Homo sapiens: one gene and its partners. The gene in region 2 interacts genetically with the main gene of each other region. Each region holds a gene or a part of one and is shown on either strand. Other genes may lie near its edges.

Region 1 (3,655 bases), on a different chromosome or scaffold from region 2:
AGAACACTGTATAATATGGACTCCAATCCTGACATTACTCTACAGTACCAAGTTCTGTTATTTAAAAATACATAAGTTACAAAAGGCAAAACACTTTCCCCAAATATACAATAATGTTTACAAATTAGCAAAAAGATAAAACTAAAATGTCAATTACTAAAATAGTGTAACAGATGTGTCAATAGACTAGAAAACCTTAAAGAAGAATATATTTAAAGATTATATGAAAAGGCTCTTGCAAATCAGTGTGGAAAGAACAGATGGTTAAATAAAAAGAACTGGAAGAAATTGGTTAATCACTCAATTCTTATTTTTTTTTGAGACAGAGTCTTACTCTGTCGCTCAGGCTGGAGTGCAGTGGCATGAACTCAGCTTGCCGCAACCTCCGCTTCCCAGGTTCAAGTGATTCTCCTGCCTCAGCCTCCTGAGTAGCTGGGATTACAGGCATGTACCACCACGCCCAGCGAATTTTTGTTATTTTTAGTAGAGACAGGGTTTTACCATGTTGGCCTTGAACTCCTGATCTCAAGCGATCTGCCCACCTCGGCCTCCCAAAGTGCTGGGATTGCAGGCATGAGCCACCACACCTGCCCTTCTAATTTTTTAAAATTAAAAAATAAGGGACGGGGCCAGGCACGGTGCCGCACGCCTGTAATCCCTGCACTTTGGGAGGTCAAGAGATTGAGACCACCCTGGCCGACATGGTCAAACCCCGTCTCTACTAAAAATACAAAAATTAGCTGCACATAGTGGCACACACCTGTAGTCCCAGCTACTCAGGGGGCTGGGGCAGAAGAATCATTTGAAACCGGGAGGCAGAGGCTGCAGTGAGCCAAGATTGTGCCACTGCATTCCAGCCTGACAAAAGAGTGAGACTCCATCTCAAAAAAGGGGGTGGGGGGCCAGGAGTGGTGGTTCATGCCTAATCCCAGCACTTTAGGAGGCTGAGGTGGGTGCATTGCTTGAGTCTAGGAGTTCAAGACCAGCCTGGGCAACATGGCAAGACCCCAGCTCTCCAAAAAATAAATAAATAAATAAAATAAATAAGAAATAGAGGTACGTGCCTCTAGTCCCAGCTCAGGAAGCTGAAGTGGGAGGATTGCTTAAGCCTGGCAGGTTGAAGCTGCAGTGAGGCATAATTGTGCCACTGTACTCCAGCCTGGGCAACAAAGTAAGACGCTGCCTCAAAAAAAAAAAAAAAAAAAAAAGTTAAAGTAAATGTTTCTCAAATTTAAGCATAGAGGAACTCTCAATATACAAGCCAAGGAAAAACCCAAGTATGACTATTTGGAATGCCAGAAGTAACATAAAAAGTAAAAGACAAACAAATTTTGTCAAGAATTCTTACAAACAAAGAAGAAGGGTAAAAAGAGAACACCCTAATAGAAAACAGTTAAAGGATATTTTATTGGCCTCGCACGGTGGCCCAAGCCCATAATCCCAGCACTTTGGGAGGCTGAGGCGGGTCAATTTCTTGAGGCCAGAAGTTCGACAACAGACTGGCCAAAGTGGTGAAACCCTGACTCTACTAAAAATACAAAAATTAGCCACACATGGTGGTGCACGCCTGTAATCCCAACTACTCGGATGGCTGAGGCACAAGACTAGCTTGAACCCGGGAGGTGGAGGTTGCAGTGAGCTGAGATCACCGCCACTGTACTCCAGCCTGAGAGGAGAGCAATACTGTCTCTCTGTCTTAAAAAAAAAAAAGACACTATTTTTCAGGGATCGGGTCTTGCTTTGTTGCCCAGACTGGAATGCAGTGGTGCAACCACAGCTCACTGCAGCCTGAAACTCCCGGGCTCAATTGATCTTCCTCCTCAGCCTTCCAAGTAACTAGGACGACAAGCACATGCCACCATGCCCAGCTAATGATTTTTTTAAAAATTATAAAAAATAGGCCAAGCGCAATAGCTCATGCCTGTAATCCCAGCACTTTGGGTGGCCGAAGCAGGTGGATCACCCGAGGTCAGGAGTTCGAAACCAGCCTGACCAACATGGTGAAACCCCGTCTCCACTAAAAATACAAAAATTAGCCGGGCATGGTGGTGTGCACCTATAATCCTAGCTACTTGGGAAGCTGAGGAACCTGGAAGGTGGAGGTTGTGGTGAGCCAAGATCACGCCACTGCACTCTGCACTCCAGCCTGGGAGACAAGAGTGAGACTCCATCACAAAAAATAAATAAATAAATAATGTACTGTAAACTAAAAAAAAAATCCAACCTCATTTCATTGTTAATCAAAGAAATACAATTTAAAGCAACGAGACAGCATTTTTCACCTAACAAACTGGCTAAGATTAGAAAGAAAACCAAGACTACCTAGTATTGACTTGAACACAGAGAACTAGCCATTCAGGTAGATGTAAACTGACAATTATCAGTGTTTTTTAAATGTGCATAATCCTTGAGCCAGTATGGCTCCTTCTAAGAATTTTCCTTGAAGAAATCAATAAACATGTTTACTAAGATTTATATATAAGAATATTTGTCAAAGAATGATTACAGCTAAAAAAATTAGAAACATCCTTCATATTAAAGAGGAGAATGAAAAGATTATTGATTACAAAACTTTTCTCCACAAAAATGCATCCTATATTTAGCGGGGGAAAGGGAAGGAAATAAAATTGTTAGAAATGTACCACTCTGGTGGGGGATGTTTTAAAAGGTGAAGGCACTATGCTTGTGTGGAGGCAGGGGATATATGGAAAATCTCTGTACCTTCTGCTCAATTTTGCTGTAAACCTAGAACTGTTGTAAAATATAAGGTCCACTAAAAAAATTAGTATGAGCATGAAGCAAAGTGTCAAAAGCTTTTAACCTTGATAACCTCAGAAGAGTAGGATTTGAGAGTTAGCAGGTTGTGGGAGAGATACAACCTTTTCTATATACATCTTAGTATTGTTCTAAGTATTAAACACAGAATGAATAATTTCTAATTTTTCTCCTCATAGTCATAAAGAAATTAATACCAAAAAAAGGAACATGAGACATTTTAAATGCAGAGACGTGCAGCTTAAAAAAAAAAAAAAAGCAGTTCTGAGAATTGCAGAAAAACCCCACACCAAACAATATGATCTGAGGGGTTCTTAGCAAGAACCTAAGTTTAGAGATAATTTCCCATGCAACCATTATCGATATTGTAAAGATTTTAAGGTTTTTTTCTTTTTGAGTTTAATTGAACAAAGAACGATTTGCAAATCAGGCAGCCTCCCCAGCCAGAGTATGCTCACGAAGACTCTCAAGTTTCTTCCCCTCGCCCCCTGAAACAGTGTCTCGCTCTGTCATCCAGGCTGGAGTGCAGTGGTATGATCACAGCCACTGCAGCCTCTACCTTCTGGGCTCCATCAATCCTCCCACCTCAGCTTCCCAAGTAGCTAGGACTACAGGTAAACTGCTAACACACTCAGCTAATTTTTAAAATTTTTTTGTAGAGATGGGGCCTCATCATGTTGCCCAGGCTGGTCTCTAACTCCTGGACTCAAGCCATCCTCCTGCATCAGTACTGCAAAGGTACTACGGATCACTTGAGGTATTACGTTAACATAAACATAATACCTAAATTTGAAAAAATGCTAAGAGGGTTTTGAAAACAGATACTATATTAAAGTTACTGGCTGGGCACAGTGGCTCACACCTGTAATCCCAGCACTTT
Region 2 (3,655 bases):
GAGAGCTATAAATATAAGTTAGCCATACACAAAACATCATGAAATTACTGAGGGTGGGGCAGGCGGCAAATGGGGAAAAGGAAGAGAACGAGGGAAAGCCTCAGCACTTCCCACAGGCTGAACGCTCATGCGACATTCTGAATGCAATAAACACAATAAGTGCAATAAGTCCTGGCTCTTCTCCAAACAAAGCCTTTGCATCCCAAAGAATAGGCTACCATTAGCAATATTTTTTCTGTTATTTCTTATTTTGGCACACTGCCACTTTATCATTTTAAAACAGCTATACCTATTCCAACACTTACTGTATAACTGTATAAAAAGGAAATTAAAAATTTACACAGTACTATATATATACATACATAATACTATGTATTAAGGTGTATCAGAGAGTAATTCTAATAATCTATAAATCCTATGGTACAAAAAATACTTTTAAGTAATCTGTAATATCAGCACATCATCATCACCTCCACTATCATCACCGCTATCACCATCATCATATCATTACTATCACCATCCATCACAATTATCATTGTCATTACTATCATCACATCACCATCATCATTACCACCATCATCACCATCACTATCATCACCACCATCACTGCCACCACCACGCCATCATCACCACCATCATCACCACCCATCCCCATCATTATCACTATCATTACACCATCACCATCATCACCACCATCATCACCATCAACATCATCAACACCATCACTGCCACCACCATGCCATCATCATCGCTGTCATCACCACCCATCCCCATCATCACTATCATCACACCATCACCATCATTACCACCATCATCACCATCAACATCATCACCACCATCACTGCCGCTACCACGCCATCATCACCGTCGCCACCCATCCCCATCATTATCACTATCATCACACCATCACCATCATCACCATCAACATCACCACCATCACTGCCACCACCATGCCATCATCACCACCCATCCCCAACATCATCACATCACCATAATCACACCATCACCACATCATCACCATCATCATCATCACCATCATCACTACCACCAGCACACCATCATCACATCCCCATCATCCATCCCCAACATCATCACATCACCATCATCACACCACCATCATTACCCCCATCATCATCACCATCAACATCATCACCACCATCACTGCCACCACCACGCATTCATCATCGCCATCATCACCACCCATCCCCAACATCATTATCATCACATCACCATCATCCCCATCATCACACCATCACAATCACTACGTCATCAACATCACTGTTACCATGAGTATCACCATCCTCACATCATCATCAACATCACACCATTGCCATCATCACCACCCCACCAGCATCATCATACCGTCCTGGGGTGACTCTGCAGACTTGGTCACAGCTATCATCTTTGTAGTGGGAGTCTGATCATGACAAACTTGGTGCAAGAAATTTATTGATTTTCCTATCAAAAGGACCTAAAAAGAAAAACATTCTATGATTACTTTTATGTAAATTTAAAACGACTGCCCAAATCTACAAATATTCGTAAGCTACAAATTGGCTATTGATTGAAAACTAACAAGAGCATCTGCTACAGTATGGAGCGAATTCTAGTAACTCAAAGATATATTGAACACATACTATACTGATGTATTCAATTAACATGCACTTACTTCATCTCCAGAACGTTAACAATCTCAAAACGCATGAAATTTTAACTGAAAATTGGTTTTGTCACATAATCTAAGTATACATAGCCATAAAACATCAAAATCACAAAAATCTCTTCTAATCCTACCTTCCTAGACTGATCCATCGTCATAAACGAAGGAATCATCGATTTCCTCAAAGTATACTTGTCGTGCCACAGTCGATCTGTTTTAACTGTTGGATCTGATGCTACAAAAAACTGAAAGCAAAGGGGCATGGAAATGTTCAAGAGTGATATTTATGGCAAAATATTAACCAACAGCAACATCAAAGAGTAAGTTATTCTAGAAAGCCAAGTTCTCCAGACACAGGGAGTCTTACCTATTTATACAATAAAACTTGTATGAAACACAGAAATCTCTCTAAATTGAACTATGTATTTCCTAAACTTTTAAAACTAAAGTATAACAAAAACAAGTTATGTCTTCCTTGGAGATTCAGAATGTCCATTAGTGCCTCTGCAGCATAATACTGAGGCTTCCTGGGCCACACGGAGCTCTTCCTCAGTAACGGTGCAGGCTTTTGGGGTTCCCCTCCCTCACAGGCAGCAGCTGTGTGTCTCCTCCCATCAGTCTGCCTGCCCTTGCAGTCTCTCTTTTGCAAAGCCCCAAAGCCTGGAACACAGAGGTGCCCAGGCCGGCGTCCTCTGTTCACAGACAAGTCCCAAGCTCTATGGGCAGACCTTGCTGTACATGTACCCATGTGTACAAGGGGCCAGCACCAGCCAGGTGGCACTGTAGAAGTGACCCCTGTGTGGCTCCCCCAGGAACCATCTGTGCTCAGGAGCTTTCTTCCTCACTGGCATGCAGCTCCCCTGCCCTGACCCTGACGGGCACCTACATCACTGCCGTTAGAAAGGAAACTGAGCAGTAAGGAGAAAATTCAATTGCTGTTGCTTCCAGTTTATTTGCCACTACAACAATGCAGCCATTCTCATTTTTCAATCATACACCCTAATAGAATTGCACTTTTATTTCTATAAACTTGTTTTATAAAAGCACAACTGCTGAATTAAAGTAGCTTTTAGTTTTTATAGACAATGCCAGGTTTCCTTTCCACACAGCTGTGTAGACTGACGCTCCCACGGGCAAGATGTCCTGTTTTTGCATCCTGGCTCATTTTAGATTTTGCCAGTCAGGTGGAATCATGGTTATCCTATATTGCTGTCATTAACCAAAAATGAAGCCGAGCATATTTTCATAGTTCTAATTGCCATTTGCTTTTCTTCTCCTGTGAATGGTCTTTTCATGCCCTTGACCCATCTTGCTATTCATTTTGTTCTCTCATCAATATACAAAAATTCTTTGTACATTAGGAATAGTGACCATTTGTGAATCATTAAATATTAGAGATTTAATTTTTCCAAGTTAATCATTTGCCATTGTTTATAGTATGGTCCATATTTTAGTTCTGATCTATTTTTTTGTTATATGTAGATAAATGTCAGTCTTCCTTTATGGTTTCTGAGTTTCCTGTCTTCCTAAGATCTTCCCATTCCTAGATTATGAAAATATTGTCCATCATGTTCTTTCAGTATTTCTATTGAGTTATTTTTATTACCTAGATCTGTTTTTTTTTCTTTTTGAGACAGGGTCTCACTCTGTGGCCCAGGCTGGAGTACACTGGCATGATCTTGGCTCACTGCAACGTCTGCCTCCCCAGCTCAAGCCATCCTCCCACCTCAGCCTCCCAAGTAACTGGGACCACAGGAGCACACCACCATGCCTGGCTAATTTTTTGCATTTTTGGTAGAGACAGGGTTTCACCATGTTGCCCAGGCTGGTCTCAAACTCCTGAGCTCAAGCGATCTGCCTGCCTCAGCCTCCCAAAGTGCTGGGATTACAGGTAGGAGCCACCATGCCTGGCCTATTACCTAGATCTTTAATTCCTCTGGAACTTGGTATAATCCTGGCACACAGTATGTTATAAGGGGGAAGTCTACGTCTTCT
Region 3 (3,394 bases), about 91 Mb from region 2:
ATGTATCTTAGAATCAATGTACTAGGAAAGCATTTTCATACTGACGTTTTGTTTTTGAGAGAGTCTCGCTCTGTCGCCCAGGCTAGAGTGCAGTGGCGTGACCTCAGCTCACTGCAACCTCCGCCTCCCAGGTTCAAGCAATTCTCCTGCCTCAGCCTCCTGAGTAGCTGGGATTACAGACGCCCACCACCACGCCCAGGTAATTTTTCTATTTTTAGTAGAGACAGGGTTTCACCATGTTGGCCATGCTGGTCTCGAACTCCTGACTTCAAGTGATCCACCTATCTTGGCCTCCCAAAGTGCTGGGATTGATTACAAGCGTGAGCCACTGCGCCCAGCCAGATGTGTTTCTTCTTTCTTAGATAGAATTGTAAGTTTTACAACAGATAAGAGTACTAGAGCCAATGAAATATACAAAAGTTTCTTACAATGAAGCACAGGCTCTTGTCACAATAGTTTCTTACCCTGCAAATATTGACTTGAATCCAACTTTCATATAGTCCCCTGAGCTAATAAGAGAACAATCTGAAAAAAATATTTTAACATATAAGCATCTTAGAAATAACCTAGTATACATTTTTTTGCCAGGTGCGGAGGCTCATGCCTGTAATCCCAGCACTTTGGGAGGCCAAGGCGGGTGGATCACCTGAGGCCAGGAGCTCAAGTTCGAGAGCAGCCTGGCCAACATGGTGAAACCCCGTTTCTACTAAAAATCCAAAAATTAGCCAGGCGTTGTGGCACACATCTGTAGCCTATAATCCCAGCTACTCGAGAGGCTGAGACAAGAGAATCGCTTGACCTGGGAGGCGGAGGCTGCAGTGAGCCAAGACTGTGCCACTGTGCTCCAGCCTGGGTGACAGACTGAGACTCTGTCTCAAAAACAAAAAAACCTGAGGTCACATTGGTTTATCTGTCTCAGAGGTGACCTTTTTTCAACCTGATATTTTGATGTTAACTATTCTGTATCAATTATAGGTTCAGTATCCCTTACCCAAAATACATGGGACTAGAAGCGTTTTAGGTTTTTTCAAATTTTAGAATTTTTGCATATACGTAAGATATCTTGGGGTTGTGACCCAAGTTTAAATAAGAAACTCATTTATGTTTCAAACATACCTTATACACAGCTGGAATACAATTTTATACATCATTTTAAGTAATTGTGTGCATGAAAGGAAGTTTGGTGCACGCCTGTAATCCCAGCTACTCAGGAGGCTGAGGCAGGAGAATCGCTTATACCTGGGAGGCAGAGGTTGCAGTGAGCCGAGATCGCGCCACTGCACTCCAGCCTGGATGACAGAGCAAGACTCTGTCTCAAAAAAAAAAAAAAAAAAAGAGGTCAAGAACTTATGTGTGCAATTTTCCACCGGTGTCACGTCAGCTCTCAAAAGTTTCAGATTTTGTGGCATTTCAGATTTTGGACTTGCGATGCTCAGTCTATATTCTGATACACAGTACATACTTATGATGATATATACCAGAAAGAATTTTTTCCTTTCTAAAAATATTTTCAATATTGTCTTGCTCTTAATTAATTTGGGGGATTTATATCACACCTTTTATCAGTTCTGACAGTGTGAAACCTACACAAGCTTCCCACCTTCTAAGGACTGTCTTTCCAGACCAACAATTGGAGTGCCAAGTGTTGCTTTTTCATCACTAGTCAGAAGCTTGAGGACAGGGTGGGGTTCAGTACTTGTGTCAGCTTGACGAAGCTACAGTCCCCAGATATTCAACCAAACACTAACCTAGGTATTGCTGTGAGATATTTTATAGATGTGACTAAAGTCAACAACCAATTGACCTTAAATTCAGAGGTCTATCCTATATAATCTGGGGAGGCCTGATTCTATTAGTTGAAAGGCCCTAAGAGCAGCCTTTCCTTCCTGAGAACCTGCCCTACAGATTTGACAATTAAGGGCCTAGACAGCCCCCACAATCACGTAAACCAAATTCTTTGCAATAAAGCTTTTTTTTTTTTTTTTTTTTTTTTTTGAGATGGAGTCCCGCTCTGTCGCCCGGGCTGGAGTGCAGTGGCGCTGATCTCGGCTCACTGCAACCTCTGCCACCTGGGTTCAAGCAATTCTCCTGCCTCAGCCTCCCAAGTAGTTGGGATTACAGGCACCCGCCACCATGCCTGGCTAATTTTTGTATTTTTAGCAGAGACGGGGTTTCACCATGTTGGCCAGGCTGGTCTCCAACTCCTGACCTCATGACCCGCCCACCTCGGCCTCCCAAAGTGCTGGGATTACAGGCGTGAGCCACCACGCCCAGCAGAAATAAATCTCTTAACACATCTCTCCCAATTCTGTTTTTCTGGCTGAGCCCTGATTGACTTTGGTGAACACAGCCTGCCTCTACTGGGCTCCTCTGGACTTCCACTCCTGTTTCCATAACTTCTCTTGGGACTGCCTATTTAACCCCACAGTCTACTTCTCCAAATTGAGAATTTCCAGTATATGTTAACTAATTTTCCCTCATTACTATTTCTGGGAATGAGGGCAGGCCTTTGTGTTACCCCCATACCAATCATCCAGTCTTTCAGAATCTTTTCTTTGGCCACCATTTTGAGATGTAACTTAAAGTTGTTCCTTCTTTGTTTGGTTGCAATTTATGGACGGTATAGTTTAGGACAGGATTTTTTTGGTAATTTTTTTTCTTGATTCAGAGTGGAAGGTCTGTGGAACAACCTCACCCTGCCATTTTAACCCTAAAAATCACTCTATTCATCCGCTTTCCCTGATAAAAGGACTTACTACAGGGAGGAGCAGTACCGTCTTGACTTTATACCCTCAGGATCTAAGCACACACAGCACCTGGCAAATAGGAACTCTTGTTGGAAGAAACATACACTTTAATTTCTGAAGAGATTTTCATCAAGCCATTATTCAACAGTTCTTCCATATAAGCTAAATCAACCTTCCTAGAACACTTACCCTTGAGTGATGCTTAAGTACAGGTATCATACTACTACATAAATTTAACAAGCACCTCCAAATAAGACAAGTAAGGTCCCAATCTTCAAGGGATTAGCTCTAGTGTACAGGGCTTAAATAGTTTAAAATTATACATCTTTTGGGGAATATAAAATAGTGCAGCTGCTGTGAAAAAGTTTGGTGGTTCCTCAAAAATTAAACAAAGTTAACATATGACCCAGTAATCCCCTCCTAGGTACATACCCAAAAGAACTGAAAGCAGCGACACAAACACATTTGTATGCCAATGTTCACAGCAGCATTATTCACAATGGCAAAAAAGGTGAAACAACCCAAGTGTCCATCAATAGATGAGTACATATGTGATGCACACATACAATGAAATATGATTCAGCCTTGACAAGGCTAAATGGATGCTACAACATTAACCCTAAAAACACCATGAAATAAGCCAAAAT

What was found.
Region 1: changes in TUBGCP3 (region 2) and SSB together harm fitness more than expected from each alone (negative genetic interaction), as found in Homo sapiens cells (one large-scale study listed by BioGRID).
Region 3: changes in TUBGCP3 (region 2) and SAP18 together harm fitness more than expected from each alone (negative genetic interaction), as found in Homo sapiens cells (one large-scale study listed by BioGRID).

Annotation. Positions count from the first base shown.
Region 1 is NC_000002.12:169,801,794-169,805,448, reverse strand, and holds part of SSB (lupus La protein), read right to left. Parts: intron 1-3,655. UniProt on the Homo sapiens protein: Binds to the 3' poly(U) terminus of nascent RNA polymerase III transcripts, protecting them from exonuclease digestion and facilitating their folding and maturation.
Region 2 is NC_000013.11:112,525,580-112,529,234, forward strand, and holds part of TUBGCP3 (gamma-tubulin complex component 3), read right to left. Parts: intron 1,906-3,655; coding exon 1,795-1,905; intron 1,472-1,794; coding exon 1,363-1,471; intron 1-1,362. UniProt on the Homo sapiens protein: Component of the gamma-tubulin ring complex (gTuRC) which mediates microtubule nucleation.
Region 3 is NC_000013.11:21,143,007-21,146,400, reverse strand, and holds part of SAP18 (histone deacetylase complex subunit SAP18), read right to left. Parts: intron 1,310-3,394; coding exon of another isoform or gene 1,117-1,309; intron 1-1,116. UniProt on the Homo sapiens protein: Component of the SIN3-repressing complex. Enhances the ability of SIN3-HDAC1-mediated transcriptional repression. When tethered to the promoter, it can direct the formation of a repressive complex to core histone proteins.